3 linked regions of the Homo sapiens genome follow. The protein of the gene in region 3 interacts with the protein of the main gene of each other region in a biochemical or structural test. Each region holds a gene or a part of one and is shown on either strand. Other genes may lie near its edges.

Region 1 (11,119 bases), on a different chromosome or scaffold from region 3:
GCTTTACTAAACACTTTATATACATTTCATTTAATTCTCTCACATCGTTAGGTAGTCGGCATTTTCATTTTACAGATGAGGAAACTGATGGTTAGTATGATTAAGTAACTTGTCCAGGATAATACAGGTAGTAAATGGCAGAGGCAAGATTCAGACTCATGTCTGTCAGAGTCGCACTTAAATTAGATTATTTATTTATGAGTGTATACTACAAGTCCAATGTTGAAATTTATTTTTGTCACTCCCTCTATAGGATGAATCATTTATATAATTTGGTGGAAACTTTATTTTGCTTTATTTTGTTTTATGAAATTATTAGTCATGAAATGCAAGTGAATTTTAGTGCCGTATTCTCATGCCTGCTTTTGCAAAATTCCAGTTTGGAAGTCTTCTGACATTTTTACAATTAAATTTAAGTTGAAATAACACTTAAAGGAAAAGGGAGGGTTATAGAGGATTAAAAATGATATAGCAAAGATGCCAAAAAACTAATAAAAAATGTTCTATTTGTGAAATCAGTTATTATAGGTTATTTCTTTAAAAAATGCGACTTAGGTTTTTTAAATCTGCTTAGAAATTTTTTGGTAGGAGATATTCAAAGTATGGCCAAACATAAAACTAAATTAAAAAAAAATCAGTATCACCTACTTTTGAAAACACTTATACTGTTGTGGTTCTGTTTTTTATTTATTTTATTTTATTTTATTTTATTTTATTTTATTTTATTTTATTTTATTTTATTTTATTTTATTTTCCGAGATGGAGTCTTGCCCTGTTGCCCAGGCTGAAGTGCAGTGGCATGATCTCTGCTCACTGCAACCTCCACCTCCCAGGTTCAAGCGATTCTCCTGTCTCAGCCTCCTGAGTAGCTGGGATTACAGGAGCGCGCCACCTCCCTCTGCTAATTTTTGTGTTTTTAGTAGAGATGGGGTTTCGCCATGTTGGCCAGACTGGTCTCAAACTCCTGACCTCAGGTGATCTGTCCGCCTCAACCTCCCAAAATGCTGGGATTACGAGCGTGAGCTACCGTTCCTGGCCGGTTCTCTGTCCTTTAAAAATATATTTTAATATTCTGAGCAAAGAGATTAAGAATGTTACAAACACATCAACCGTGCGTATAGTAAGTCTTCCCTTCCTTTTAAAAATAGCACATTGCTTGCCTCTGATGGTACCATATATGATAGTCTGATGCTCAGAATGTTATGCATTTGTAGTAATACTTAGTTCCGACATGGCTGTTTCATACTAATTGTTTGCTAGATTTTAAAGATCTCTAAAGTTTCTTCAGTATTAAATTAATTTTTGTAAAATCAACAGGTTTATAATCCATTCTCATAATACAGGGATGGATAAATCATTCTTACTGTGTATATGTTATTTGTATGAGTGCAGATGTGTTATGTCAACTGCTATCCATCCTGACATTTTTAAACTTCAGAGCTATAGGAGACCTTAGACATTTGCCCTCCTCATTTTATGGGTTAGGAGTCCGATCCTGTAATGCACTGAGATTTCTCAGTTTCAGAGAAAAGTCTATCCTTTGGTCAAGGATATACTTTTTTTTTTTTTTTTTTAAAGGAAAAGCAGTACAATATTGGAATAGATGTTGCAAGTGTTGATGTGCAGTTCTCAAAGATAATATTAAACATTTTGTCATAGAATGCCCACATTTCGGCTCAGTGATATAAAGCTGAGGTTTTTTTTTTTTTCTTTTCCATTTTGCTAAATTACTGCTTGTATTAGCACAACATAATACAAAGTCTTAGTAATTTTATTACAGAATACCAAAGCAGCTGTTCTTTATGCTTTACGGAACATATTCATTCGAAAAGTGTGAAGCTAAAGAGTATTATGGTTGATCATGTTCTATATCACTATGGCAAAAATTTGAGGTAACTTAAATTTGGAAGAAATGAGTTAAAAGGATAGAAAGTTGTCAGAATCAGACAGCTAGTTCCTCTCTTTCTAGACCCACACAGTCTTCTTTGTTTCCAGAGATGTCTGCTGCATGTTTCTTACCACGCATTACCTTTCACTGTTTTGGCATGCTTGTGACCAAGTGTACATGCATTTATTCGTTAAATGTTTACTGAGGACCTGTTATGAGCCAGGCACTATTCTATGCATTTGGGCTAGGCAAGGAACAATATAGAGAAAATCCTTTCTTTCATAGAGCTTACATTATAGTTATTAGCTTAAGACAAAATAAACATGTAAATTATATGGCATAACTAGAAGGTTATAAACGCTGTGGAGAACAGTGAATTGGGAGGGAATAAGAAGTGCCAGGATATGAGGGCATGGGTTGCTTTTTTTTTTTTTTTTTTTGAGACGGAGTCTTGCTCTGTCACCCAGGCTGGAGTGCAGTGGCGCGATCTTGGCTCACTAGGGGTCGCAGTTTTAAATATAGCAGTAAAGGAAGGCCTCACTGAGAAGGAGCAAAGGAGAAGGAGTTAGCCATGCAGATACTCTGGGCAGAGCATTCCAGGCAGAGGGAACATAGCCTATGTGAAGTGTCTAAGATGGGAGCATGCCTAGAGTGTTCAATAAATCACCAGGAGAGCAGTGTAGCTGTAACGGAGTAAAAGAGTTGGAGAAGAGTAAGTATAATATGAGGTCAGAAAGATATGGAGCCAATGGGGAGAGAGCATGTAGGACTTCATTGACTTTTATAGTGAGATAGGGAGCTATGGGAGGGTTTTGAGCTGACGTGAGACATAAATTGTCTTGATATGCAGCCAGCTTTCTGTATTTGTGGGTTTCGCATCTGTGGATTCATCCAATGTCAGATGGAAAATACTTGGAAAAAAATAGATGATTACCTCTGTACTGAACATGTACAGCCTTTTTTTCTTGTCATTATTCCTCAAACAATACAGTATGATGACTACATAACATTTATGTTATAATTATTCTAAGTAATCTAGAGATAATTTAAAGTACAGTTGACTCTTGAACAACATGGGTTTTTGAACTACATGGGTCCACTTACACATGGATTTTTTTCTTCAATAAATATATTGAAAAAAATTTTGGAGATTTGCAGCAATTTGAAAAAACTTGCAGATGAACTGTGTAGTCTAGAAATAGTGAGAAAGTTAAAAAGTTATGTCATTAATGCATAAAATATATGTAGATACTAGTCTTTTACTCACTATCATAAAATATATACAAATCTGTCATGAAATGTTAAAATTTATCAAAACTTACACACACAAACATGTAATGGAGACTGTACATGGCACCATTCACAGTTGAGAGATGTAAAGAAACTTAAAGATACAGTATTAAATCATAACTGCATGAAATTAACCGTAGTGCATACTGTGCTACTGTAATAATTTTGTGGCCACCTTCCGTTGCTGTTGTTGTGAGCTCAAGTGTTGCTGTTGTTGGAGCTCATCTCTCCAGTAAATTGTATATGGTAAAAAGTATCTCTCTGGATTCTCTTGTATTTTTCATTGCATTTAGTGCAGTACCCTAAACTTTGAATAACATGATGGGATCCATATGAGGTGCCACTAAGTGATGCTGGAAGTGCTCCAGGAAGCTGAAAAAAGGCATGACATTATGAAGAAAAAGTCGAATTGCTTCATATGTGCCATAGATTGAGGTTTGTAGCTGTGGTTGCTGGCCATTTCAGAATGATTTATCTTGTAAACAGACAGGTATCAATAAATATGGTACAGTGCTGTAAATGTAATTTCCTTCTGATTTTCTTAATTTTTTTCTCTAGCTTTATTGTAAAAATAAAGTATATAATATAGAATACAGTATATAATATTACAATACATATTGTAAGAATGCAGCATATAATACAGTACGCAATACATATAATACAGTTTATGCATTCATGGCATAATTTTATTTTTTTTGCTCCTTCTAAGCTACACAGTTCATCTTTTTTTAAATTGTTGTGAATTTCCAAAAAATTCTCCAATATATTTATTGAAGAAAGAAATCCGCGTATAAGTGGACCCATGTAGTTCAAACTGTGATGTTCACAGATCTGTACTTTAAATAATCTCCTGAGTACTCATAATACCTAGTATAATGTAATACAAAGGCTGGGTGCGGTGGCTCACGCCTGTAATCCCAGCACTTTCGGAGGCGGTGGCAGGCAGATCACCTGAGGTCAGGAGTTCGAGACCAGCCTGGACAACATGGCGAAACCCTGTCTCTACTAAAAATAGAAAAAATTAGCTGGATGTGGTGGCGGGTGCCTGTAATCCCAGCTCCTTGGGAGGCTGAGACAGGAGAATGGCGTGAACGTGGGAGGCGGAGCTTGCAGTCAGCCGAGATCGCGCCACTGCACTCCAGCCTGGGCAACAGAGCAAGACTCCGTCTCAAAAAAAAAGTAGTACAATATGTGTATTAATCTACTGTTTATGTTGTATTATGTTATGGGAAGGCTTCTGGTCACCAGTAGGCTGTTAGTAGTTTTCCATTAGTAGTTTTTCGGGAGTCAAAAGTTGTATGTGTGTGTGTTTTTTTTTTTTTTTTTTTTTTGAGACAGAGTTTTGCTCTTTTTGCCCAGGCTAGAGTACAGTGGCACCATCTCAGCTCATTGCAACCTCCGCCTCCCAGGTTCAAGCGATTCTCCTGCCTCAGCCTCCCGAGTAGCTGGGATTACAGGCATGCACCACCATGCCTGGCTAATTTTGTATTTTTCGTAGAGATGGGGTTTCATCATATTGGCTTGAACTCCTGACCTCAGGTGATCCATCTGCCTCAGCCTCCCAAAGTGCTGGGATTATAGGCGTGAGCCACCGCGCCCGGCTGTATGTGGATTTTTGATTGTGCAGGAGGTCGGTGCCCCTAACTCTTGTTCAGGGGACTCCTGTATATGGAAGGATGTGCATAGGTTACTTGGAAATACTATGCTGTTTTACATAAGGGACTTGAGCATCTGTGGATTTTGGCACCTGTGGACTTCCTGAAACCAATCCCCCAGGGTTACTGAGTCTATCTCTTTCCTGGTTAAGACAAGTTTTTGTTTGTCTTAAATTCAAATTTCTGGAAGCTACAATCTCACTGGCTCATCTTGGGTCAGTTGCTTATCCTTTTGATCCAGGTAGCTGGGTGGTGGTGGGAAAGGTAATGGAAGAATAAGAATCATGACTGGCTGTGTCCATTCTTGAGCTGGTAAGACAGTGCAAAAGAGATCTGCTATATTGCTCAATTAGAATACTTTTTAGACTGAAGCCCTGTGAGTGATTATTGCTGGGCTATCCTCTTCCAGATGCCTACTTCCCATTTCTTCCAGGCCAGGCTTACTTTAGTGGGTTTTACTTCTGTCCTGTAAGACTATGAAGATCACTTATTTTTAGTATAATACAGTTAGAACAGAAAGAGTTCTTGAAAAGTGAATAGGAAGTAAGAACCCCCCAAGGGAAAACTTAATAATTCAGACTATATTTTAGAATGCTGTTGCAGTAGGCTAGATGAGATATAGGAGTTACATTAAGGTAGAGGGAATGGAAAGAATGGAAAAGAAGAAATAGACCAAGGTAGAATTAATAGAACATAGTAATTGAAGAGGTAATATAAGGAGGAGGAGTTAAAAATGATTGATTTTTATATTATTTCAAATGGGAATGGAAAGAGATAAGTAGTTCAGTTTTAGATATTGTTTTAGTTTGCAGGGGCTGCTGTAACAAAGTACTACAGATTGGGTGCTTAAGAGAAATTTGTTTTCTCAACTCTGGAGGCTAGAAGTTTGAGATGAAGGTGTTGGTAGGCCTGGTTTCTTCTGAGGTCTCTCTCCTTGGCTTGTAGATGATTGTCTTCTGTGTCTTCATGTAGTCTTCTCTCTGTATGTCTTCATGTAGTTGTCCCTCTATGTCCTAATCTCTTCTTTTTTTAAAGACGCTAGTCATATTGGATTAGGGCCTACTCTAAGGACCTCATTTTAACTTAATTACCTCTTTAAAGATCCTGTCTCCAAATATAGTTACATTGTGTATACATGCAGGTTAGGGCTTCAACACGTGAATTACGGGGGGAGGGGCAGTGCAATTCAGCCCATGATAGACATGAATTCTTGAAGGCTTGGAAGACTGAAGCATTCCCTGTACACTTATTTTTTATAACTTAACTTCATTATAATATCTTTTTTTTTTTGAGACGGAGTTTAGCTCTTGTTGCCTAGGCTGCAGTGCAATGGCGCGATCTCGGCTCATGGCAACCTCCGCCTCCTGGATTCAAGGGATTCTCCTGCCTCAGCCTCCCGAGTAGCTGGGATTACAGGCATGCACCACCACACCTGGCTAATTTTGTATTTTTAGTAGAGATGGGGTTTCTCCATGTTGGTCAGGCTGGTCTTGAACTCCTGACCTCAGGTGATCCGCCCACCTCGGCCTCCCAAAGTGCTGGGATTACAGGTGTGAGCCACTGTGCCTGGCTGTAATACACTTTTTACTTTCCTGTCTCTCTCCTTCCCTTCTGTCACCTCTTAATGTATTCTGTAAAGATGGAATCAGGTTAATAAAGTATAATTTACACACAAATTTACCCTGTTTAGGGTGCAGTTCTGTTATAACACTTTTGAAATAGAATATTGGAGATTCCATGTCTTTTTTGATTACTTCCCCATTTACCAAATATTGGGTACATGTCTACTACGTATCTAGGACCTGTGCAACAATGTTTTCTGCATGTTTCATTTCTTCATTCCAAGTCCTTGAAAAGTGCCAAGAGGCATTTCTATTGAATGGAACAGTTTGAAGAGCATTGATGTAGCTAGAGTAGTGGTTTTCAAAGCTTTGTCCCAAGACCCCTTTACATTCTTAAAATTGAGGACCCAAAGGACTTTTGTTTATGTGGGTTTTATATGTAAAGATAGATATTTACCATATTAGAAATGAAGAATGAATACAAATTATTTAGAATATTTAAAAGTAACAATAAACTCAATATATGTTAATAAAAATAACGTTATCTGGATTATTATAAGACAATTGGATTCTCATCTCTCCCTTTGCAGTCACTTTGTTAAGTGTTTTGGTTAGTGTATATAAAAACTCGGCATCACACAGATTTATAGCTTGAAAAGGGATGAATATTTTCAGATGTTTGTATGTTCTTTGATACTATGTCAAAACTTGACAAGTGGTAGTTTCTTAACGTATCTGAAAACATGGCAGTCACCTTAAAAAATTAAATTAACTGTTAAATTAAAATCCATTTGTCTGGTAGTGTAGGATAGAGTCCAGAAATAGATCCACACATACATGGACAGTTGATTTTTGGACAGAAGTGCAAAAGCAATTGCATAAAATATAAAGGATATCGTTTTTCAACAAATGGCACTGGAATAGTTGAATAGCTGTAGGAAAAAAAAAAGAACTTTGAGCTATAGCTTGTACCATATACCAAAATTAACTCAAAGGGCTGTTAGACCTCAATGAAAAACCTAAAACTATGAAACTTCTAGGGGAAAATATAGGAGAAATTCTTCGGAATCTTGGGTTAGACCAAGATCTCTTAGGTATGACTCCAAAAGCATGATCCATAAAAGAAGTGGATAAATCAGATGGCATCAAAATTCAGAATTTCTTTCAAAATTAGAAAGACACTTAACAGAATGAAGACAGGATACAGAAGATGTATCTTATAAGGGGCTTGGAGTATATAAAAAATTCTCAGAACTCAGTAATAAGAAAACAATAACTCAGTTTTTAAAATGGTCCAAAGATTTGTATAGACACTTCACTAAAAAATACATGTACATGGCTATTAAGCATATGCAAATATGCTAAGCATCATTAGTCAAAACCATAATGAGACACCACTTCACACCTGCTAGGATGGCTATAATCAGAAAGAACAGGTAAGTGTTGGTGAGCATTGTAGAAAAATTGGAACCTTCATTTGTTACGCTAGGAATGTAAGATAGTGTGACTGATTTTGGTAATTCCTCAAAAAGATAAGCTGAGTAACCATATGACCCAGAAATTTCATATACCCAAGAGAATTCAAAAAATATATTCACACAAAAACCTGTATATGAGTTAGCAGTATTATTTATAATAGCCAAATAGAAACAACCCAGTGTCCATCAACTGATGAGTAGATAAATGTGATCTATTTGTAAAATAGAATATTACCCAGCAGTTCAAAGGAATTAAGTACTGATGCATGGTACAACTTGGATAAATCTCATAAACATTAGGATAAGTGAAATAAGCCAGTCACAAAAGAACATATTTTCTATGATCCTATTTGTGTGAAATGTCCAGAATAGGCAAATCTATATATAGAGAAATTAGTGGTTGTCTGGAACTGGGGAGAGCAGATGGAGTAGGAAGTATCCACTAATAGTTACAGGGTTTCCTTTTGGGATGATGATAATGTTCTAAAAGATTATGGTGATGGTTGCGTAACTGTAAATATACTTAAAACAATTGAAGTCTTTAAATTGGTGAACTTTATGACATATATCTGAATAAAATTGTTAATTAAAACTACTGTGAGATATCATTACATACCTATTAGTGTGGCTAAAATGGTAATAGAATGACTGACCGTACCAAGTGTTTGTAAGGAGGTAGAGCAGTTGGAATTTTCATATACTGCTGGTGGGAGTGTAAAGTGGTACACCACTTCTTCTGGGGAGCAGAAAGCAACCTTCCGGGTACAGGTGAGCCAAGGTTGATGGGCAGTTATGCAGAGGGAGTTGGGATATCACTGTGTGTACCTGTGCAAGTCCTGGAGTGTGTTGGGTCCTCATCAGCAGGGCTGTATGAAGGTGTTCATTAAAACAAAACTACTGATAGTGTGGCAGGAGCTAGAAAACACCCCTTTCTTCTTAGATATCCCTCCAGCACCCTCTACTGGCAAAGTTTAACTGCCCCTAGCCAAAAGAAAAGAAAAGAAAAGCTTAGCATCCCTATCACTGAACAGGGACTGAAAGGGAGAATTTGGAGTTGAGAAGGGGATACATGGATAACTAGCTCATTACTGCTGAAATTGTTGGAATCATTCATTGCCTGTGCTGCTGAAGCTTGATGTTGCCCACAGCTGTTGGGCAGAATCTCCACCATGACTTGCGTATCTGTTAGCAGGAGTCTGCAGTACCTGCCATTAGCTGCAACTGCTGGTTTTTAGAAACAAGTAGAAAATGGTTTCGCTGTTTCTCTGCTTCTTCTTTATTTTTATTTTTGAGATGGAGTTTCGCTCTTGTCGCCCAGGCTGGAGTGCAATGGTGCGATCTTGGCTGACTGCAACCTCTGCCACCCAGGTTCAAGCGATTCTCCTGCCTCAGCCTCCTGAGTAGCTGGGATTACAAGCACATGCCACCACGCCCGGCTAATTTTGTATTTTTAGTAGAGACGGGGTTTCACCATGTTGGCCAAGCTGGTCTTGAACTCCTGACCTCAGTTGATCTACCCACCTCAGCCTCCCAAAGTGCTGAGATTACAGGTGTGAGCCACTGCACCCAGCCTCCCTGCTTCTTCTGATCTCACAGAAGTGCTTCTCATTGACAGACTCTAACTTAAGCCTAGTTGGCAAGGAGGCCAGAAAGTGCAGTTTTCAGGCTTCCAGGAGCAACAGTACAGGTGAATTTTTAATTTAGTAACGATAGTAATCTGGTGAGCTAAAATAAGTAAACTTTGGGGTACATAGAGAATTGGAATTATTATTATTATTATTATTTTTGAGACAGAGTTTCGCTCTTGTTGCCCAGGCTGGAGTACAATGGCACGATCTTGGCTCACCGCAACCTCCGCCTCCCGGGTTCAAGCGATTCTCCTGCCTCAGCCTCCCGAGTAGCTGGGATTACAGGCATATGCCACCACACCTGGCTAATTTTGTATTTTTAGTAGAGGTGGGGTTTCTCCATGTTGGTCAGGTTGGTCATGAACTGCCGACCTCAGGTGATCCGCCCACCTCAGCCTCCTGGGATTACAGGCGTGAGCCACTGCACCTGGCCGAGAATTGGAATTTTTAAACTGTGTTTGCAAGGCCTAATTCCCAAACCCACATAGTTTGTGTATGGGTATACGCTCACCCTCAAAAAGGAAATATTTTTTGTAAAATTTGAGCAGTTAAACATTTTTTTCTGCCTGTAATTGTAAAAGTAGCAATTAAACACTATCTACTTGGGGACGAGAAAGGAAGAAAAATTACCCATGTTCTCGTCTGACCAATTACAGTGGCTGTCTTTTTTTTGCATTTTCTTCTTTAGGCTATGGTGTTTTTACCTAGTTGGAAGTAAGGGAGTGTGGTCATTTAAAAATGTTATATCTCTTTCCATATTAGCAAATAGTTATATATACATATATATACTTTTTTTTTGTTTTTTGGTCTGTTGCCCAGGCTGGAATGCAGTCACGCAATTTCGGTTCACTGCAACCTCCGCCTCCTGGGTTGAAATGATTCTTGTACCTCAGCCTCCTGAGTAGCTGGGATTATAGGCGTGTGCTGCCATACCTGGCTAGTTTTTGTATTTTTAGTAGAGATGGGTTTCGCCATGTTGGCCAGGCTGGTTTCGAACTTCTGGACTCAAGTGATCCATCTTGCCAAAGTGCTGGGATTACAGGCATGAGCCACTGCGCCCAGCCTTGTATTTGCTATTTTTAAGGGACTGTATACATTCCATATAGTGAATGTGCACCATTTATATAGCCGCTTCCCTATTTTGGGCTATATAGGTTATCTGCAGACATTTTGAGTAATATTTTTAATATATTTTCAAAATTGTCTACTATAATTGTAGCTACTAATTGTAAAAATTTTATTGATAATTACATATTAAACATTCCTTGTTTACTTCAGCCAGATGAACAAGGTCAACATTAACAGTTACATGTGGCATAGTGCCACGGTTATTACTTGAGACTGTCACTATGACAGTTACTGCTGTTACTACTTGAGACCGTCATTATGAGACTGAGTGAAGGGGGACAAATGTAGAAATGAAAAATTAAGACAAAAGAAACTTTTAAAGGAAGAAAAAAGGGGAAGAAAAAGAGGGCTCCCTGCTTCTAGGGAGCAAAGGCAGCAGCCTAGCTTCCACAGCCCTTAGAATTTATTGGGTAGAAAGAGCAGGGGGGAGGTGATAATGACTGGTCAGCTGCTTAATTGATCACACGTTCATATTATTACGAACAGGCTT
Region 2 (11,119 bases), on a different chromosome or scaffold from region 3:
CCCACAGGATCCTCCTACCTCAGCCTCTGAACAGCTGGGACTACAGGTGCAGCCCCATCATGCCCAGCTGATTTTTGTATTTTTGGTAGAGGTGGGATTTCGCCATGTTGCCCAGTCAGGTCTCAAACTCCTGGGCTCAAGCGATTGGCTTGCCTCAGCCTCCCAAAGTGCTGGGATTACAGGCATGAGCCACCATGTCTGGCCCTTAGAAACATTAGGAGACCTACTATAGACACTGGTGTAAATTTGGGATATGAAGGGGCTGTCATGTAGAATGAGAAATAATGACAGTTAGAAATATTAGCTTGGCTGGGCACAGTGGCGCATACCTGTAATTTCAGCACTTTGGGAGGCCAAGGCAGGTGAATCACTTGGGACCAGGAGTTTGAGACCAGTCTTGGCAACATAGTGAGACCCTGTCTCTACAGAAAATACAAAAATTAGCTGGGCGTGGTGGCATGCACCTGTAGTCCCAGATACTGGGGCAGAGGACAGGACTGAGGTGGAAAGATCGCTTAAGCCAGGAGGTCGAGGCTTCAGTGAGCCATGATCGTGCCACTGCACTCCAGCCTGGATGACAGATTGAGACTCTGTCTCAGAAACAAAAACAAAAACTAAAAAACCCATAAAAAATAAAACAACCTAATGTTTCTAAGACTTTACTCCTCTATCAAGTCACGTCTCCAGAGAGCCTCATTTTAAGGGGCACTCTTACACCTGATAGAAATACCTTCCCATAACTAGTATTTAGAGTGCAAGCTCCAGGCATAGACAGCCTCAGCATTCACTAAGCACCAGTGTGAGAAGTGGTCATGAGGAAAATACTCAACCTGCTTTCAAAAGCAGCATTTAAAAGTTCTTTTTACAAAATTTAGATGATCAATTTCCCTTGGCATAAAATGCATGGAAAACTGATAGCTATTAATAGCCTGGTGTGCTTTCAATTAAATTATTACAGATGTGTAAGCCATGGTGTCCTTCTCTTGTTTTGGCTACCAGAAAGCTCAGGATGCTATTTCTTCCAGGGCTAGCTTTTACAATGTGCCCAGCAAGCTTTGTGACTTAAACTGTTTCAGCCTCAGTTTCTTCATCTTATAAAGTGAAAGTAACCAACAACTACTTTGCAGAGGGGGGTTTAAGGAGCCAAATACGGTGTCTGGCAAATTTGTTCAACAAATATTTATTGACTTCTATGTATAAGACACTGCCCTCAGTGCTAGGGGTCTAATGACAGGTCCTTGCCCTCCCAGAGCTCACATTCTAGAGGGAAAGCCAGGACTAATAAGTACACAAATACACAGCTGATGGCAAGCAGACCACAGTGAGCACCAGGGAGGAAAGAAAGCAGGGACATGATGGAGGGTAACCAGCTGTAAGAGGCAACCTGTGTTAGACGGTACAGGTGGAGAAGACTGCTGTGTGCAGGAGAAATTTGCAGTGAGACTTCAAGGAAGAGAATAAGCTCGCCACATAAAGAGGAAACAAAGAGCAACCCAGGCAGAAGGAACAGAACAGCCAGGCCCCGAGGAGGGAAACCATTTGGCAGGTTCTAGGAGGCTGGTGAGGCTCCAGCACAGTGTGCAGAGAGAATGCTGGGAGATGAGGTAAACAAACAGTAGTGTGGCTAATAAGAATTGCTTTGCTCTAATGATTGCTTGCTTGTCTTAGTGGTTTTGTTATACCTGGGCCTTTTGTTTTAAGCAGTTTCAAATACTTTTGAAGTGACCAATATACAAATGAGATGAATATAAAGTAATTAATGAAAAAATGTTAAAGCTGACATTTATCAAGATCCTACTATATGATTTACATGACTTGAACATTTAATTCTTCCAATATTCTATATGGTAAATACTATTATTACTTTTTTTTAACTGATAAAGAAATGAGACGCAGAGAGTTTAATAAACTTACCAAAGCTGGCACAGGGAATAAGTTTAAGAGCAGGATTTGAATCAGGCAGCCTGACTCCAAAGCCAATGTCCTTAGACGCTACACAATGCTGCCTCTTCAGGTTACATAGCTATTGTGAATCAGTTACTTGATGGTACCCACAGGTCCTCCTGAGCTTCTAACAGTTATTGTACTCACTAGTAGCAAGAAATATGTTTGGAATTCATAATCTATAATCTACTATCAGGGATTCACATAGCTTCAAATTCTATCTATTAATAAGGAATAAGGTCTAATGTAGCATGAGAAAATTTCCCTCCCAAGAAAAATAAAGAACTCTAATTAACATTTTAATAATCATTCTCAACTTACAGAACTTATCCATTGTTAAATCCGTATCCATAAATTTATTACACAGATGTTTATGTAGGTCAGCTTGCAAATAGCTACTGGTTTGCTGTCCTGGGGATACCAACAATATGTGTGAAGGAGACACAGTGGAGATTGATTTCGTTATTTAAATAGTTCTGGTCAAAGAAAGTGAGCAGGTAGTCTGAGGGCTGGTAAAAATCTTTTTTAATTACTGATTTTTCCACATGGAGTTCTGTTTCAATCTGTAATCTCTGATGTACCCAAAGCCTCCCCAAGGCCACAGTAGTCATGCTCCCGGGCAGTATCTGCCATCCCAGCCACTTACATTCCCATCGTGGTTTGGGCAAGAGAGAGGCTTTCCCGCAGCCACAGCAGTGACTGTCTCCAGGATGGAAGACTCCTCAGCGTTGCTGCCTGGAGTTCGCTGCAGCACGTCCATCAGGTTTGTGATGAAGAAATTGTTCTGGAGCGCGGCCACCCCTTTCTCGGGCAGGATGGAGGTCTGGCGGCACACTGGGCAGGAGAGGGTTAAACTGTGGGCAGGAATGTAGTTCTGCAGGCACCTGTTGCAGAAGCAGAGGTGGAGAGCTTAGCACAGTGCAGAACCTCCACTTCTCACAGGTACCATACATGTTCTCAGTGACTACACAAGGTATTTGGCAGAAACTCCCATCCCAGTCTCCTTTACTAGGAAAATAATATTTCAGAAACCAACAGGTAAGCTGTACTCACACTAATGAGGCAAATGATTATGCTCAAGGAAATAAAAAATGTCATTGACTTTTGTAGTGTTTTCTAGTGCCTTGGCACACAAAGTGTGGTCCATGGATGAGCAGCGTCAGCCTCCCTGGGGGGTGCATTTGGTAGAAATGCAGAATCTTAGACCCTATCGAACACCTGCTGAGTCAGCTCCCCATGTGATTTGCATACATGTTAAAGTTTGAGAAGCACTGGCCCACAATATCTAGCAGTGGGCTCATAAATGTGTGGACTTTGAAATTGAAAGAAACACATCAAATATTTTTGTTAGCAATAAAATTCTTCTTACGTACAAAATCATAATGAGATATAAAAAACACATCAAAGTGGAAATATTTGCTTGAAGCAAGAATGGGACACCCAGAGTCAGAGCCACACCATCTCTTCTCCTTGTCTCTACTCAACAGGTATCAACTTAACTCATTTAGTTAAAGAAGTGTGTCACTAATAATGACTCACACATATGCTGCTCATTGAATTCAAAGTACTTCCAATGAGCCTATGAGATAGGTACTGTTATGATTCCTTGAGACACGTGATGCAACAGACAGAGACAGGCCAGCGTACTTGTCCAAGATACTTAGCTGGTCAGGAGCAGAGTACAAAGTACAAATTCAAACACAGGCAGTTTGGCACCATAATCTAAGCTCTCAATAATTAGACTATACAATTTTTTCCAGTACCTAGCCAAACAATTCAAAACACACCAACCTAGCCCCATTCCCCTTATTTTGCAGATGAATAGACCTGACATCAGAGACATTCACTGATCTTGTCTATGTCACAGAGGTAGCTAGCCCTGAACCAATACCAGACATGAAACAGCTTTTGCTAAGGTCATTAACGACGTCTGAATCCAGCAGATGTTTTTCAATTTTATCTTACTAGACTTCTGGGAAGTATCATTAAGCTTGATTATTGCTCTGCTCACCTTCCTTTTTATTGAAAAATTTCTCTTCCCTTGACTTTATGACACCACACTCACATGGTTCTCCTGTCTGCTCTGTCTTTTCTGAGTCAATACAGTTTTGAGTTAATCAAGGTTCCATTCATCATGAGACCTCTTCTCTTTCTGGAATATTATATTCATATCACAGGTGTGGCTACAAGCATCAGGCTCCCAAAATTATATTTCTTCCCACAGACATCTCCTTTGAGCCTCATTAACTGACCTGTTGACATCTTTTCTTAGATGTCTTGCAGGTCCTAAAACTCAACATGAACAAAACCAAACCCATTATCTGAACCCCAGACTGTATCCTCTCCCATTCCTGATGAATAGCACCTCCATCCATTTATTTAAACAAACCAGAAACTAGGAGTCATTCTTAAAACAGTAACTCCCTTACTGTCCTTCATTTTCCATATCCAACCCATCACCAAAGCATGTCCAAATGCCTACATATCTTTCTAACCTCTCCAGTTCTCTTCATGCCCTGCTATATAACCATCCTTGTACCCTCTAACAATTATCCACATTGCAACCAGAGTGACCTTCTCAAAACTCAAAGAGAGCCATTTAAATCTCCCTCCCACACCATCTGAGATGAAAGCCATGCCATGGTTTCCACTTCCACTGCTCTTACAACAAAGACAAAAATCCATATATGGCAACATGGATTACACATCTCATATGGCCTAGCACCTACATACTTTCTGTCTCTTCCCCTCATTTGCTGCATACCAGCCACAGTGGACTTATTTAAGTTCTTCCTCAGTGTTGAATAACCCTCTCACTGTAGCACCTCTCACTCACTATAGCAACCTCCCACTATAGCACCTTTGCACATACCTGAAATTCTATTCACTCCCCTTTGTTTAGTTAATTTTTACTCATCATTGGGGTTTCTGCGTAATCATCACTTCTGCAAGGAAGCCTTCCCAGATTAGGGCAAATTCCTCTATTATATTGTTTCCTGTATACTTCTGGTGTACAGCACTTGTCACTGGTTTAATTTCACATTAGTCTGAGCAATTAGGGGGTTAGTGACTGGCTCCTCCACTAGGCTGTGAGTTCCAAGGGGCCAGCAGCTATGTCTGGCTTTGCTCTCCTTCAAGCCTTTTGATGCTGTTTTGGAAGATGTGGGATAAGAGTGACTGTAAGGGCTGGGCGTGGTGGCTCACGCCTGTAATGCCAGCACTCTGGGAGGCCAAGGCGGGTGGATCACGAGGGCAGGAGATCGAGACCATCCTGGCTAACACGGTGAAACCCCGTTTCTACTAAAAATACAAAAAAAAAAAAAAAAAAAAAAAATTAGCCGGGCGTGGTGGCGGGCGCCTGTAGTCCCAGCTACTCGGGAGGCTGAGGCAGGAGAATGGCGTGAACCCGGGAGGTGGAGCTTGCAGTGAGCCGAGATCGCGCCACGGCACTCCAGCCCGGGCGGCAGAGCGAGACTCTGTCTCAAAAAAAAAAAAAAAAAAAAAAAGAGTGACTGTAAGGTGCTCACTGAGTAGCCAGTATGAATGTCCAGCAGAGGCTGAACATGGGGGTCCTAGAGCTCACTCTCCTGACAGTGAGACAAGCTGTAAAGTTTTGTCTCTGCATAAACAAAAATTTCCCCACCGGGCGCAGTGACTCATGCCTGTAATCCCTGCTCTTTGGGAGGCCGACATGGGCAGATCACGAGGTCAAGAGATCGAGACCATCCTGGCCAACATGGCGAAACCCCGTCTCTACTAAAAATACAAAAATTAGCTGGGCATAGTGGCGCATGCCTGTAGTCCCAGCTACTCGGGAGGCTGAGGCAGGAGAATCACTTAACCCAGGAGGCGGAAGTTGCGGTGAGCCGAGATAGCGCCACTGCACTCCAGCCTGGTGACAGAGCAAGACTCCGTCTCAAAAACAAACAAACAAACAAACAAACAAAAAACCCCATTTTAAGGAAAGTTGCCAGCACCTTCAACACCTTCAAACAGAAATCTTCTCGGCTGGACGCAGTGGCTCACGCCTGTAAGCCCAACACTTTGGGAGGCCAAGGTAGTTGGATTGCTTGCGCTCAGGAGTTTGAGACCAGCCTGGGCAACATGGAGAAACCCTGTCTCTATAGTCAGGCATGGTGGTGTGCACCTGTGGTCCCAACTACTCAAGAAGTTGAGGTGGGAAGATCTCTGGAGCCTGGGAAATTGAGGCTGCAGTGAACTGTGATTGTGCCACTGCACTCTAGACTGGGTGACAGAGTGAGATCCTGTCTCAAAATAAATAAATTAATAAATAATTAATAAAATAAAAAATAAAAGAAGAGGAAATCTGGCCAGGCGCAGTGGCTCACGCCTGTAATCCCAGCACTTTGGGAGGCCGAGCTGGGCAGATCATGAGGTCAGGAGATCAAGACCATTCTGGCTAACACAGTGAAACCTCGTCTCTACTAAAAATACAAAAAATTAGCTGGGCGTGGTGGCAGGCACCTGTAGTCCTAGCTACTCAGGAGGCTGAGGCAGGAGAATGGCGTGAATCCGGGAGGCAGAGCTTGCAGTGAGCTGAGTTTGCGCCACTGCACTCCAGCCTGGGCAACAGAGTGCGACTCCATCTCAAAATTAAAAATAAAATAAAAAAAGAAGAGGAAATCATCTCAACATGCATGAGGCTGGAACAATTTTAACACAGAGCATTGTGTAAGGACTTGCTGTAGCAGAATCTCACAAATCTCTACCACCAGCTATTGGGTGGGGAGTGGAAGTGGGTTGGGCTAGATCCCCAAAGAAGATAGCAGGGGCAGACCTAGGGCAGCCAGAGTGTTGCTTCTCACCTGTCAGAGTGAGGAAGTAGGACCCAAACAATAGATAGGCTGGACACTGAATACTGGGATATGGGGCAATTCTGCCAAGTTCAGACTGAGTGGCTCTGAATGCACTTCTATAGAGAGTATCAGCCAAGCTATGCCGACTGCTGCACATCAGGTAACGATCTTCCCATGTGTGCCCAGGGACACATGGACTATTAGCTGGTATTCATGTTTTAGGTGCACCCATTAAGGGGATGGAGGAATCACACTCTAATTATTTTGTAATATGAATTACCAAGCACTTAAGCCAAAGTATAAAATGAATAAAATAAAAAGTGCCCTATATACCACCACTAAAACAAACCAAAACCCATATACACAAGCACACGCACACACACAAAACCCCACAACAACCCAAAACAAACAAAAAAGCCACAACTACTAGTAACAAATCTACCTTCTCCTTCTATCCATCACCACCATGAAGGATATGGTTATTCTTTTGCAATTGAACCTTGCAAAGTAAATCAACTCAAAAAATGGTCAATCAGATAATAAAGACATGTTAAATCAGATATTTGTGTAATCAGCATAGATTTGAAGCCATTTGAAATACTGATTTCCAGTTCTATCACAGGAAGTAAAGCATTTTAAGTATGTATATTAAATAATGATAAAAATGTACTTAACAAAATGCTATAAAACACAATTACCATATTTATTTTTAAGAAAGATACATAACTTTACTAGGGAAATATTTATAAGTAAGATAAACTAATTACTAACAAACTTATGCTTAATTGCTTACATGGTAAGTTAAACAATGGGGTAAAAGTATATTTTGATAACTGATTAACGCCCCTCTCCAAAAACAAATACTCTATGAAGAAGATAAATAAGGAAGTCTGTTTTCACATACAGCAAATTACATAGTCAGGTAATTTATTTAATATATATTTTTTCTTTATCTAAAACATCATAGCATTCAAATGTGACATTAGTATGTGTCTGAAGAATCTTTGAAAAAGAAGCTATACCTTTTGAAGTAACAACTCATGTATGCAGATGTTTTACCTGATTTGTTATATGGGAGGAAATGATAGATTTTTTTAATTGACTCTGAAAGACCCTCTGTAGGGATCTGCTGTGGACAAAAATTGTTTCACAAAGAACAAAGGGAAGTTTTAAAAGATTTTTCAACTTAACATTCTTATTTAATGCTCCATCTCTTGTGTAAACGAATCAGTAGTTACTGGATTGCTTTCTCTTGCTTATAATGGTTTGAAATAAAGTAAATTATTTGCAACTCATGATTCTGTTTTTCAATGTCTGGCAGAAGCACAAGAGATTAGTTTTCTCTCAAAGGTAACTGTAGAATTCTGGGAAAGAATCCTGCAGTAGGTTGTAGGAGGTCAGCCTGCGAAACTCCCTTCTCCAAGCACAAAGGAGGCTTACCTCTCGCAGAAAGTGTGCAGACAGGGGAGAACCTTGGGATTCTTGTACCGTTCCAGGCATATACTGCAAATCAGAAACTGCTTGTCAATCTGGCGCACCACAGGACTTGGGATGTTGGTGCCTTCACTGGCCATCCTAGACCACTGACATGGGGGGCCGGCTGTCTTTGACCCTGCACGCTGCTGCTGTCAGACAGAAAATCAAAACAGAAAAACATATAATGATCTGTAGGTACAAGTCAATCACTGGCTCTTTCACCATAAGCATTGTGCTATAAGTAAAGGTAGAAGTCGGCCAGGTGTGGTGGCTCATGCCTGTAATCCCAGCACTTTGGGAGGCCGAGGTGGGCGGATCATGAGGTCAAGAGATCGAGACCCTCCTGGCTAACACAGTGAAACCCCGTCTCTACTAAAAATACAAAAAATTAGCCGGGTGTGGTGGCACACGCCTGTTGCCTCAGCTACTCAGGAGGCTGAGGCAGGAGAATCACCTGAACCCAGGAGGCAGAGGTTGCAGTGAGCTGAGATCGCGCCACTGCACTCCAGCCTGGGTGAGTGCAGTGAGACTCCATCTCAAAAAAATAAAAAATAAAATAAAAAATAAATAAATAAAGGTAGAAGTCAATGCCAGTGACCTCAAAATGACCAATAAGCCAACCCTTATTGCTGTACAAGTACAGTCAGCTCCCTGTTGTTTATTTTGTAAATCAATAAAATCCTCACATGTTCGCCAGGCAAACAAAACAAATTAAAAGAGGGCATGTTGTACAAAGAGGTATGCTCGCTGGGCTTCAAAGCAGTGGTAACTAAGGGGATAAATACTTTATATAGCTATGTCTGCTTATGCCTTTAGCCATGACTATATTTAAACATATATTTACCTTTCATATTCTTATTGAAATTGAATATGTTTTTCCAACTATCGTAGTTGAAGAGGTTGGACTGTGTCACATCAAAATATGTCACTTTGATATAAGGATTATTTTGAGCTGAAAGCTATATAGAAAGAACAGACAGAAAAGGACCTCTCTGCCCTTCCCCATCTGCCTAAAAGCAGAGCATAAATTTCTCTTTTGTAAAGGAAATTTCCATTTGTAAAGGTGCCTCTCTCTCCAGAGCCAGGAAGAGAAGTCTCTTAAACACTGAAGACTGCAAGGAGATGATCTTGCAAAATGATCTTACTAAACAAACCTTATCTACCATACATTTCCTACAATTTACTGCCCCAGGAGTCCAAACCCCTCTTTCTTTTGTCTAGGCAGTTCTCCGCAATATATTGTCCTTTGTCAAAATGGTATATAAAACCCAAAGAGGAGGTTGTGAAGCCCTTGATAATGTAAAATTAAAAATAGTATCAAAAAAAGTGTATGCCTTTTTCTCCCGTTAATCTGTCTTTTGTCACTTTAATTTATAGACCCTAGGCACATACTCTAGGAGGGCAGAAGAAAAGTTTTTCCTCCCCTACATGCTATTAATATGCATGGGGGTGAAAATTAGAATTTTAATTAAAGATTTTGTATATGGTTCAGAGTGTTTTCTTCAGGACTAAAGGTTTATAGATTTGAAACTAAAATATATTTGCTATGGGGTAGGGACAAAGGCTAGAGGTATTCCCTATAATTTAAAAGAAATATCTGTTGGTATTCATGTCTGGGCATTTGAAAGACCTGGTGAAGTGAATTAATTCAGAGAAGGTTTCAAAATGTTAGGGATCATGCCAGGAAAGGAGAATTAGAAGAGGGCAACACAGAAAGAGAAGACAGCAAAGAGTTTGAGAGCACAAGAGAGGAAAAAGTTACAACACAAAACACAGCTCCTTTTACCACCTTAAAGAATTCCTGGCTTCTACACCGAAGGCATAAACCAAGGCTGAGCTAAAATTTACCTCTTCATTTTCTAAATATTTGGTAAGGTGTCCAGAGCCCTCTAATTCCCTATGGAAATACTCTTTACCAAAAAGAAAATAAAAGACAGAGAGAAAGTGAAACTGCTTTTGCAAAAACTGTAACTGAGAAAATTATGGCAGTGAAAGAGATCAGACCTAACCGACTCCATCTTGTTTCTAACCTTTAAGCTGTCCTTGTTCATTCCCGGGCATAGGTTAAACTAACCTTGGGAAGGAATTGAGCTTATAGTTCGACTCTGAAAAAAATTGATAATGGCCCTTTTCCAAAAAGACCCCTTCTTGCCTAAGGACCAGTCTCCCTTTGTAGGACTAACAAATTAGCTACAAGATTAGAAATTAAGGTTTAGGGGCCATGCAGCCTCTGGCTGCAAGAGTCTGAACCTCCCTAAATTGCTCTTCGCGATAACAAAACTATTGTAAAACCAAAGATCAGTGCTTGAGATGTTTTGCAGAGCCTGCACTCAGTGGATCAGCTGACACCACCCAGACCGGTAATCTGGCTCAACAAGTTCCGTGATCCCACCCAGGAACAGAAGGCAGCAAGAAAACCTCGCTTTGACTCCTCTATGATTCCATCTCCAACCTGACCAGTCAGCACTCCCTACTTCCCCTGCCCCTACCTGCTAAATTATCTTTAAAAACTCCGATCCCGAATGCTCAGAGAGACTGGTTTGAGTAATAATAAAACTCTGGTCTCCTGCACAGCTGGCTCTGAGTGAATTACTCTTTCTCCATTGCAATCCCCTGTCTTGATAAATTGGCTCTATCTAGGCAGCAGGCGAGGTGAACCTGTTGGGTGGTTACGAAAGAAAGAAAGGGAAGAAAGAAAAGAAAGAAATAAAGAAGGAAAAGAAAGAGAGAGAAGGAAGGAAGGAAGGAAAGAAAAGAGGTTTAATATTTAATATGACCCTAGGCAGGAGGTCATACTATTATTCTTTATTCTTTATTATTACTATTATTTTTTGAGATGGAGTCTCGCTTTGTCACCCAGGCTGGAGTGCAGTGGCGCGATC
Region 3 (11,119 bases):
CAATAGGAAAAAAAGCTGTAAAGGGTTAAAGAACAGGGTAGTAAAGTACTTAAGCATAATAAACAGGACAATTTATACAAAAAATTTAACAGTTGAAGATAGTAACTAGATGGGGAAACTGTACAAAACAAGCGCTTTAAAAGAGATATTCGAAGAAATGTAGAAATGAAGTAAGGCCCACCATAGCGCCTTACTTTTCACAACTGATGAGGTTATCTATTGAAAGGAAGAAGCATGAGGGCTTGAGGGAATAGAGACTGGAATAGCTGTTGTGAAGAGTGCATTACACCAAAAAGAGTTAAGTCTTTATCTACTGATCCTGTTGCTCTGTGTAAGTTAGTGCCAAAATGGGTCTTAGGATATACTGATTACATGGACTAGTTTTTCAAACAGGGCTGCAAAAGCAATTTAATGAGTCACTATCAAAGTTTTTTTGTTAACAAAAATAGAAAACAGAGTTTATCACAAGTAGTTTCAGTTATATAATCTATGTATGTGTTTTATTCACTAATCTATATATACATATGTATGCACTGCGTCATGATGTAAAGTATTTCTAATTATGGGTTTGAAAGCCACAATTACAGAAAACAGCCAAACATGGTGGCGTGCACCTGTAATCCCAGCTACTTGGGAGGCTGAGGTAGGAGAATTGTTGGAACCTGGGAGGTGGAGGGTGCAGTGAGCCAAGATTGTGCCACTGCACTCCAGCGTGGGTGCCAGAGTGAGACTCTGTCTCAACAACAACAAAAAAAGAGTCAATGTAAAAGGACATCAAAGCCACTGCCACAAAGCCCCTGCACTTGATTCTACTGGCAGCCACTTGCCACTTGATTCCTTGACAACATTAAGTCAGCTTTCCCACGTCACTTACTTTTGATTGGTTACATTCACTAAAAAGCTTCATAATAGCTGACTGGAATCCTCATCATGAAAAACTGACTTAGACCCTCTAAATTGTTTTCAATCTCTAAAATGTCAACCAAATTCAACTAAAAGAGTAGCCCTAAAAATTTAAAGCACACAATTTTCACTCTATCTGAAAATGGCCTTGCCCACTCTGAAGCAACCATAGCATTTCTGAGTTTTTCTCCTATCTGTGGACCCCTCTTCTTCTATTTTACCTGTGGAAATTCTACCTGCCCCTCCCCTCTTTTCCTTTTTTTAGTTTTTTTTTTTTTTTTGGAGATGGAGTCTTGCTCTGTCGCCCAGGCTGGAGTGCAGTGGCGTGATCTCGGCTCACTGCAAGCTCTGCCTCCCGGGTTGAAGAGATTCTCCTGCCTCAGCCTCCCAAGTACCTAGGATTACAAGCGCACACCACCACGTCCCGCTAATTTTTGTATCTTTAGTAGAGACGGGGTTTCACTATGTTGGCCAGGCTGGTCTTGAACTCCTGACCTTCTGAGCCACCGCACCTGGCCTACCTGCTTTTTTTTTTTGATGCTTAACTAACTAGTACCCAACTTGTGCGTGCAAACTTCTACCGAGCAGCCAAGTTAGCAAAGAGAAAGCCCAAAACCCATAGAGTAGAATAACACTGTAGACTACACATTAACATGTCACATATCCACTATTTTTCAAATATAGAAAGATGTGACTGTGGCCAGGCAAGGTGGCTCACGCCTGTAATCCCAGCACTTTGGGAGGCTGAGGCGGGCGGATCACTTGAGGTCAGGAGTTCGAAAACAACCTGACCAATATGGTGAAACGCCGTCTCTACTAAAAATGCAAAAATTAGCCAGGCGTGGTGGCAGGTGCCTGTAATCCCATCTACTCAGGAGGCTGAAGCAGGAGAATGGCTTGAGCCTGGGAGGCAGAGGTTGCAATGAGCCAAGATTGTGCCACTGCACTCCAGCCTGGGCCACAAAGCAAGACTCTGTCTCCAAAAATAATAATAATAAATAAATAAATAAAATAAAATTTAAAAAGGCACCAATTAATTCAAAATATCTTTCATTACATATTATCTTCATCACAGATGCTATAGTATAAGTACTATCATGATATTAAAAAGAGGTATGTAGGCCGGGCACGGTGGCTCACACCTGTAATCCCAGCACTTTGGGAGGCTGAGGCGGGTAGATCATGAGGTCAGGAGTTCAAGACCAGCATGGCCGAGATGGTGAAATCCCATCTCTACTAAAAACTACAAAAATTAGCCAGGCATGGTGACAGGTGCCCATAATCCCAGCTACTCAGGAAGCTGAGGTAGGAGAATCACTTGAACCCAGGCGGCGGAGGTTGCAGTGAGCAACAGAGTCAGACTCTGTTTTCAAACAAAAAAAAAAGAGAGAGAGAGATATGTAACCAGCAGTTTCACATTTGAAAGTGTTTAAAAACCCAGGCCTAGTTCAATTTTTTTCCATGAGGCCTCCATTACTGTTTTTGAGTTAAATTATAAAAATCTTACAAGGATCAAATCCTACCATACTGCCATATTTATTTTATGTAAATAATGTGCTGTATGCTGCCGTCTGCAATTTGCTCAACATTGTTCTATTAATCTATAGTCCTGTTGTAGCTGTCTCTTGTCCATTCATTCTATCCGCCACAGTTCACTATTATTCTATGATAGTCAGAATCACATAGTCATGTGATCACTGACTTGGCTGTGCTCCGTGGGCACTGCTTTTCTGCCAGGTCCTGGAGTTGTCACCCCTTTTGCCTCTCAGCCTCCCACGGGCGCAATGGAGGAGAAGGATGAGAAAGCATGGGTGCTGCTGGCCCTTCTGTGGCCTCCAGTCACCTGGCTATGACTTTTGATGCTGTTATTGATGTGTTTCCTTGGCTTCAGCAGCTATTTTTGCTATAATAATCCTGCTGCCCTTCAGACTCAGGATAAACGGAACAGGCAGGTGAACACCATGAAATTCATGCTGCTATATGCCTGGTATTCTTGGCCCAATGTAGTTTTGTGTTTCTTTGGTGGCTTTTTAAAAGACCGAGTATTTGGAATATGATGGGGCACAATTACTTTTAGCTGTTTTATTTGCACTGGACAGGTTGTTTTGTTCTGGGTGGAATATTTAATGTTTTTTGGCTGATGGAATTTGAAAGACTTGTGTTTGGATTGGTGGGGAGTGCTCAGCAGTTGCCCAGGACATATGCTGTCAGCTGGTTTAAAGACAAAGAATTAAACCTGGTGTCTGGACTCCAACAATTTAGCATGGCTAGAATTGGAAGTACGGTAAACATGAACTTCGTGAGTTGGCTGTATTCTAAGATTGAAGCTTCGTGGGGTTCTGCTGGTCACACAACCCCTGGGGTCACACTTAAGATTGGGGGTATAAAATGTATTCTTTCACTAATCTGTGCCTTCCTTGGCTCTTGCTTACTTAGATGCGAGAGCAGAGAGAATCCTTCATAAAGAACAACAACAACAAAAAAAGGGGGGGGAAGTTTTTACATTAACTGATGTAAAGGATTTCTCCTTACCCCTGTGGCTCATATTTATCATCTGTGTCTGCTATTGTGTTGCCATGTTCCCTTTTATTGGACTTGGGAAAGTTTTCTTTACAGACAAATTTGGATTTTCTTTCCAGGCAGCAAGTGCAATGAACAGTGTTGTATATGTCGTTATCAGCTCCCACACCCCAGTATTTGGGCTCCCAGTGGATGACACGGGGAAGAACAGCATCTGGGTTCTGCGTGTGGTTGCAGCCACTCTTGTGTCCCACATGATGCTGGCCTTTATGATGTGGAGCCCTTGGGTTGCTGTGTCTTCTGGGAATCTCCTATTCATCGCTTGCCTGTGCATTTTGGCCAACAGTGGCATCTGTAGTTCCTGAACATCAACTGGGAACTGCATATGGCTTCACGCACTCCATTCAGAATCTTGGGGTGGCCATCATTTCCATCACTGCTGGGATGGATGATACTGGACACTGGGGGATATTTGTTTTTAGAAGTTTTCTTCATTGCCTGTGATTCTATGTGACTTTTATCTGTGGTCTTACTCTATTTTGTGAATCATGCCCAGGGTGAGAACCTAAATTATTCCACAAGACAAAGGGAAGAAATAAAATTTTCCCATACTTAATAAGTTTAAATGACTGTGTCATGAGAATGGGCTTTTGCACATCACTGGTTTGAAAATCTCCATTTTTAAAAATTTAGAGTTTAGTCATGAGAAAAAAAATAATGGAATGGCAAGTTGTATTTATATCCAAATACACCTATTTCAAAGTGTATTTGTGAGAACTATTTTAGCCTGTGTCTTCTGTATTGTGTGTTGCTGAAGAATTCTACAAAAGGCCAACCAACAATGAAAGGTTTAGAAAACTGCTCTGGAACATCCAGGTGAACTTCAGAAAAGAACAGTGAAAACAGAAAAACACAGGAGCTTCTTTTGAGATTGTCTTCATTAAGTATGTGTCTAAGGGATACAGCCTTTTCTTTATCTTACAGCAGAAAAAAAAAAAATTGTGACAGACATTCCCTTTCCTGGTAGGGGCATAATGCTAGAAGACATGTGAAGATATTTGTATGAAGTCTCTTTCTACTCACAACCAGTAGCTTGGGCTCTACTATGTGGTTATGTGGACTGCTGAGCAGTGACCCTTCTGAGTTGATTTTTCTGTTACTGAGTCCCCTAATCTCTTAGGGACACAAATTATAGTACAAACAGTCTGTACAGTTTTTCATATAGTCTAATTAGTAACTACAAAGTGTCCTTCGAATTATAATTGACATTTACAAAAATAAATAATAAAACTGCAAAAGGGGAAAAAATAATTTTTTTTTTGCTATTATAAGCAATAGAACATGGAACATTTGAAACATTTCCTAAGCATAGGGTTTTTACCCTAGAAATGAAACTGCTAAGACCAAATTTAAGTAATTGTTCAAAGTCACTCAACTAAGAAGAGTGGTAGAGTTAGAGAGCTAACCAAAGGCAGTCCCCAAAGTCCATGTTCTTGAACACTACGTGATAAACCGCATGGCATTACCACTGATCATTCCATTTCCAAGCAATGTAGGCACTAGGTTCATTCCCTCCAGAACTTCATTACAGAAGAGATGGCTTCTGCCTCTATGTCTCACACAGGACTGGAAAATAATTTATAACTGGAATAGAATTTTGCAACTGTAAAAGAATGTAATTCAGAGTTTTGGTTAACTGATTCTTCATTTTCTATATCTACCCAAGGCAATACTACAAAACACATAATCTTAAGATTCTCCAGATTTTTCATATCATTGCCAGTGCTTAAAAACAAAATAAATAAATAAGACATACTCCTTGAACAGACCAGCCACTGGTGATGAAAGGAAAAGAGAGATAAAAGTTATACAGTCATCATTCATTAATAATTTATAAAATGTTATAATGATACAGTGATATCCAGGTTTCTTAGACTTTCTGGTTTTGTTTGTTTGTTTAAGACAGGGTCTAGCTCTGTTGCCCAAGCTAGAGTGCAGTAGCGTAATCTTGGCTCACTGCAGCCTCCACCTCCTGGGCTCAGCCTCCTGACTGCAGGCATGCATCACCATGCTTGACTTATTTTTGTATTTTTTTTTGTAGAGACAGGGTTTTGCCATGTAGCCGAAGCTGGTCTCCAACGTCTGAGCTCAAGCGATCCACCCTTGGCCTCCCAAAGTGTAGGGATTATAGACGTGAGCCACTGTATCCACCCTAAACTTCCGTACTACAAACCTATTGCCACTTCTACCTGAAATTTTAATTTCTGTGGATATGAGTGGTTATCCATACTGTTTGATAATCAGTCTGAAAACAGTTGGTATACCACACCAGTTTCAGAATGTACATTTCATAGAAAGGCCTTAGGGACTACTGCACTGGAAAGACTCATTAATAAAAATAAAAATGTAATGCTATATAAATATGAGTATGACTGAATTAAGACTTGTGGCAACTATAGGAGTCTCAAAGTAATCCTTGAACGGTACCGGTTATCAATCACATAGACTGAAAAGAGAGTGGAGCGCCCTCTAGTGACTACATGAGGGCTAATGATGGCACAGAGAGATAATCACAGCAGCTTTTACAGAATTTTGGTACAGTATTTCTATTATCTAATTATAAAGTGGTGAATTAATCACTTAGGTCTGGGTACCATCTGAGCCTATACTAATTTATTTTCAATCCTATAACACCCCTCCCCCCAGCACAAGCCTCTACTTCCCTTCACAGGCAGTTATTTAAACGTAAGGTGTATATATTCACTTCCAATAGTGCTCTTCAAACAATTCCAAGATGGCCTCTACTCTCTCCATTCCACTGAAATAATTACAAGAACCTCACTACTTTCTGCTAAGAAGTTTTTTAAGAACTTTTTTTTTTTTTTTTTTAGATAGAGTTCTGCTCTTGTTGCCCAGGCTGGAGTGGGTGACACGATCCCGGCTCACTGCAACCTCTGCCTCCTGGATTCAAGCGATTCTCCTGCCTCAGCCTCCCGAGTAGCTGGGATTACAGGCATATGCCACCTCACCTGGCTAAATTTTTTGTATTTTTAGTAGAGACAGGGTTTCTCCATGTTGGTCAGGCTGGTCTCCAACTCTCGACCTCAGGTGATCCTGCCCACCTCGGCCTCGTGAGCCACTACGCCCGGCCGACAACAAATATTTTTTAAGCATTCTATGAAGTACATGGTTCTTGGTAGCATTCTAAAAGGCTTACTTCTAACAAACCTTTCTTCATTCCCCTGTACCTTCCTTTGCCTTTCTCAGGTCCTGCCCTAGGAATATGCTCTCTCTTTCCTGAGCAAAGGCTAGTGATCTCAGGAAGGCACAGTCCAGAAGTGACCACCAGTATTCTCAGCAGCATATACACACTCCAGCAGAGCTGCCAGAAATATTGCTGTGATTCACATCTCAATTCAACAGCCAACACTTTTAAAAATGTACACCAAAGACCAGAGACGGTTTTGTTTTCTTTTTTGAGACGGAGTCTCGCTCTGTCACCAGGCTGGAGTGCAGTAGCGTAATTTTGGCTCACTGCAACCTCCACCTCCCGGATTCAAGCGATTCTCCTGCCTCAGCCTCCTGAGCAGCTGGGACTACAGGCGCCCGCCACCATGCCCAGCTAATTTTTGTATTTTTAGTAGAGACAGGGTTTCACCATGTTGGCCAGGCTGGTCTTGAACTCCTGACCACAGGTGATCCACACGCCTCAGCCTCCCAAAGTGCTGGGATTACAGGCGTGAGCCAACGCACCAAGCCAGCAGATGCATCTTACAAAACAATACATACTAGTAAATTTAAGTTAGTCTGCAAACACTCAGAGCAGAAAAGAAGACTGTGGTCTTTGCATCTAGAAATGTACGACATGAAATATTTTTAAACTCTATTTCTCTTCTTCTACTGCTCTTTCACACCACTACATTGTTGTCTATCCTTAAGCCATTGGTTTAACAATTAATAGTCAGTTAATAGATTATCATAGAGCATAACAATAACTTTCAATAAACTAGGAGAAAGTGACCATTAGTTTAGTTTGGGATAAGAACACCTAGATTCTAACCAGTATTCGGTGGGGACTCAAGTAGAGAACCATGAAAAGAGACGATCTTGAAAGTTCTCCTTAGCCTTCTTAAAACACTGATGTGTGTAATACATTCTCAATTAAAATGTCCAAAAATTATATAACTCTTCTGCCTCCTGAGTTCAAGTGATTCTCCTGCCTCAGCCTCCCGGGTAGCTGGGATTACAGGCATGCCACCATGCCCAGCTAATTTTCGTATTCTTAGTAGAGATGGGGTTTCACCATGTTGGCCAAGCTGGTATCAAACTCCTGACCTCTCAGGTGATCCACCCACCTCAGCCTCCTAAAGTGCTGGGATTGCAGGCATGAGCCACCGCGCCCGGCCTGAAACTATTATTTTTAATAGCAATAGGTCTTAGACATTAGAGCTTCAAGCAAAACACAAAAACTCTTCCATGATCAAATTCAGTACAAAGGATATTGAATACAGCCATTTCTCCTGCTCCTTAAAAAATAATTTCATGTCAGTTTGCCAAAATATTTGTGGTTTTGCTTTGTTTTGTTTTGAGATGGAGTCTCACTCTGTCACCCAGGCTGGAGTGCAATGGCGTGGTCTCAGCTCACTGCAATCTCTGCCTCCTGAGTTCAAGTGATTCTCCTGCCTCAGCCTCCTGAGTAGCTGGGACTACAGGTGCATGCCACCACACCCAGCTAATTTTTGTATTTTTAGTAGAGATGGGGTTTCACTACATTGGCCAGGCTGGTCTCGAACTCCTGACCTCATGATCGGCCCGCCTTGGCCTCCCAAAGTGCTGGGATTACAGGTGTGAGCCACCGTGCCCAGCCTGCCAAAATAGTTTTTAATTCAGTGTATTAAAAGAGCTCCATTTTGAAGATGTCAGTTCCATTATACTTACTAAAGTGTATCTGGAGGGCCAATAATAAGGACTTCCCATCGGTAGAGATCATTGTCATCTATTAAACCTGCAGAAAAGCCTTCCACTGGATTTTTGTTGAGTTCTGTGGAAAAAGAAAAGTTTAATCAATACATTTAAGCACATAATTTGCATCCAGTAGATAAATTACAGAACTTGAGCGTACATGTTTTATGTAAGTTTTAAACCATTAAATAGATATACCTTGCCAGGCAAAATGCTACTTGATGGCCAAAACATTTTCATGCCTATACTGTAAGAAAGCCCTGGGTAAAGCAAACTATCCAGAAGATCAACTTCTACTGGTATCCAGCCAGGCTCTTGTCATTCTAAGTGGCCCTACAGTGGTCTTTTAAGGAAGCTTGTTAAAATGCAGATATCCAGGCCCGTCCCCCAGAGATTCTCATTGAGAGGGAGCCCTGGAAATCAAATCATGTTGGCAATTCTTATGCTGCTGTCTTCAGGGTATACTTTCAGAGTGTCTAATCATACCTTTTCATTGGAATGTACTGCGCTTAATAACTTTCATTTATACTAACATTTGTACACCTATTTGACTTGTCCCTGTAGTCTTGGGGACCTGCTTCTACAGTGGGTGCTCCTGTGTGCCCATCCATCTCTGAGCACAAGGAGAGCAGGGGCCCCATATGTCTTGTCTGTATATGTCGACCCTCTGAGAGCCACAGCTTCTGGGACAGAGGAGCAGCTTAAGAGTAACACCTGGAGCATACAGAATGGCTGCAGCATCGTGAGGTTCTCCTCCTCTAAAGAGAGTGCTGTGGCATGGAGAAAGGATGACAGGGTGGGAAACAAGAGAGGCGAGGAACTGGCAAGGTGGGGGCACACAGGCCAAGACAGGGACCTTAAGGAGCAGGTGAGCAGCGGTACAGAGCCCAGAATGTTTCCAGAGACACCAGACTTAATAAAGTACTGGCCTCCTGATGGTGAGCAGATCATGTGAGAAATTTTTAAACAACTTTAATGAGGTATAACTGACATTCAGTGAACTGCACATACTTAAATTATACAATTTGGCCGGGCGTGGTGGCTCACACCTGTAATCCCAGCACTTTGGGAGGCCGAGGCAGGTGGACCACCTGAGGTCGAGAGTTTGAGACCAGACTGACCAACATGGAGAAACGCCGTCTCTATTAAAAATACAAAATTAGCTGGGCGTAGTGGCACATGCCTGTAATCCCAGTTACTCGGGAGGCTGAGGCAGAAAAACTGATTGAACCCAGGAGGCAGAGGTTGTGGTGAGCCAAGATCGCGCCATTGCACTCCAGCCCGGGCAACAAGGGCAAAACTCTGTCTCAAAAAATATATAAATAAATAAATTAGCTGGGCATGGTGGTGTGTGCCTGTAATCCCAGTTACTCAGAAGGCTAAGGCAGGAGAACTGCTTGAACCCGGGAGGCAAATGTTGCATCAAGCCAAGATCACGCCATTGCACTCCAGCCTGGGTAACAGAGCAAGACTCCATCTCAAAAAGAAAAAAAACACACACACACAATTTAATAAGTACTGATATACACCAGAGGAACCAACACAACAACAATCACAATAGTGAATGCATGTATCAATCACCCACACAATTATCACATTTTACCGGCCAGTGGAACTGAGTACTCATTGGCTCAAATTGGAAAGTGTGGACAAAGAACACACAGGAGTAGAGTGGTTTGAAAAGGACTTGCTGGGAGTCTCAACAGGTGTGTAATTCTCGTATACTACCTGCCATCATTCTCAGGCAGCTTTGTCTAATGATGAAAGGCAGTATAATATAACTCAGAGTGCTACAAAGGACTGAACCAATGTTTAGGTAACTGAGGAGATATTAATTTTTGGGGAAATCAAGAGATGGTATTATTTCAACAACTACGATTTAACAACATGCCAGCAAAATAGGAGAAAGCCAATAGTGAAAATTTATATTTAGGCAGGGCGTGGTGGCTCACACCTGTAATCTCAACGCTTTCAGGAAGCCAAGATGGGTGGATCACTTGAGGTCAGGAGTTCAAGACCAGCCTGGCCAACATGGTGAAACCCTGTCTTTAGTAAAAATACAAAAATTGGCCGGGCATGGAGGCGGACATCTGTAATCCCAGCTACTCAGAAGGCTGAGACAGGAGGATCACTTGAACTGGAAGGCAGAGGCTGCAGTGAGCCAAGACCATGCCACTGTATTCCAGCCTGGGTGACAATGCGAGACTCCGTCTCAAAAATAAAAATAAAAAATTTATGTTTAAACATGAAGTGCTTCTTTTCTTGAAATGTGAGGGGAGATTTTTATAAGTCTAACATTTTTGCATAACAGGCAAACTAGACTTTTACAAATAGTTAAAATCAGCTCTGTATTTCAAAACACAAGAAATGTACTTTTACTTTAAAGTGGCTAATCTAAAATACTTTTTAAAGATATTGAAAGTGCAAACACATTAAGAAGGGAACAGCATTTTCACTGTTATTTTGTTTATGCACGCATATGTGTACTGAGCGCCAACTATGTTGCAGACATTCTATTAAAAAACAGAAAGTCCCACTTTCCTGTCAACTGAGGAACAGAGTGCAGCACACACAAATGCACTGTGAGGAGTTATTTTCTACATGACTGATCTCATTTCCAACCTTTTTCTAGAGAAACACCATTACATTACTCGGACCATTTTCTACAACACTGTACACAAGAGTCTTGTGAAAGATTCTATAATATATCCAGAAATCACCTAGTTGTTGCATT

What was found.
Region 1: the proteins of UBE2G1 (region 3) and MARCHF6 form a complex in vitro, tested with the Homo sapiens proteins (one study listed by BioGRID).
Region 2: the proteins of UBE2G1 (region 3) and TRIM2 form a complex in vitro, tested with the Homo sapiens proteins (one study listed by BioGRID).

The regions. Positions count from the first base shown.
Region 1 is NC_000005.10:10,355,658-10,366,776, forward strand, and holds part of MARCHF6 (E3 ubiquitin-protein ligase MARCHF6), read left to right. Parts: intron 1-11,119. UniProt on the Homo sapiens protein: Endoplasmic reticulum membrane-associated E3 ubiquitin ligase that plays a critical role in mitigating endoplasmic reticulum stress, the regulation of cholesterol and lipid homeostasis, and ferroptosis.
Region 2 is NC_000004.12:153,267,602-153,278,720, reverse strand, and holds part of TRIM2 (tripartite motif-containing protein 2), read right to left. Parts: intron 8,387-11,119; coding exon 8,202-8,386; intron 2,829-8,201; coding exon 2,591-2,828; coding exon of another isoform or gene 2,552-2,590; exon of another isoform or gene 2,453-2,551; intron 1-2,452. UniProt on the Homo sapiens protein: UBE2D1-dependent E3 ubiquitin-protein ligase that mediates the ubiquitination of NEFL and of phosphorylated BCL2L11. Plays a neuroprotective function. May play a role in neuronal rapid ischemic tolerance.
Region 3 is NC_000017.11:4,298,660-4,309,778, forward strand, and holds part of UBE2G1 (ubiquitin-conjugating enzyme E2 G1), read right to left. Parts: intron 8,465-11,119; coding exon 8,362-8,464; intron 1-8,361. UniProt on the Homo sapiens protein: Accepts ubiquitin from the E1 complex and catalyzes its covalent attachment to other proteins. In vitro catalyzes 'Lys-48'-, as well as 'Lys-63'-linked polyubiquitination. May be involved in degradation of muscle-specific proteins.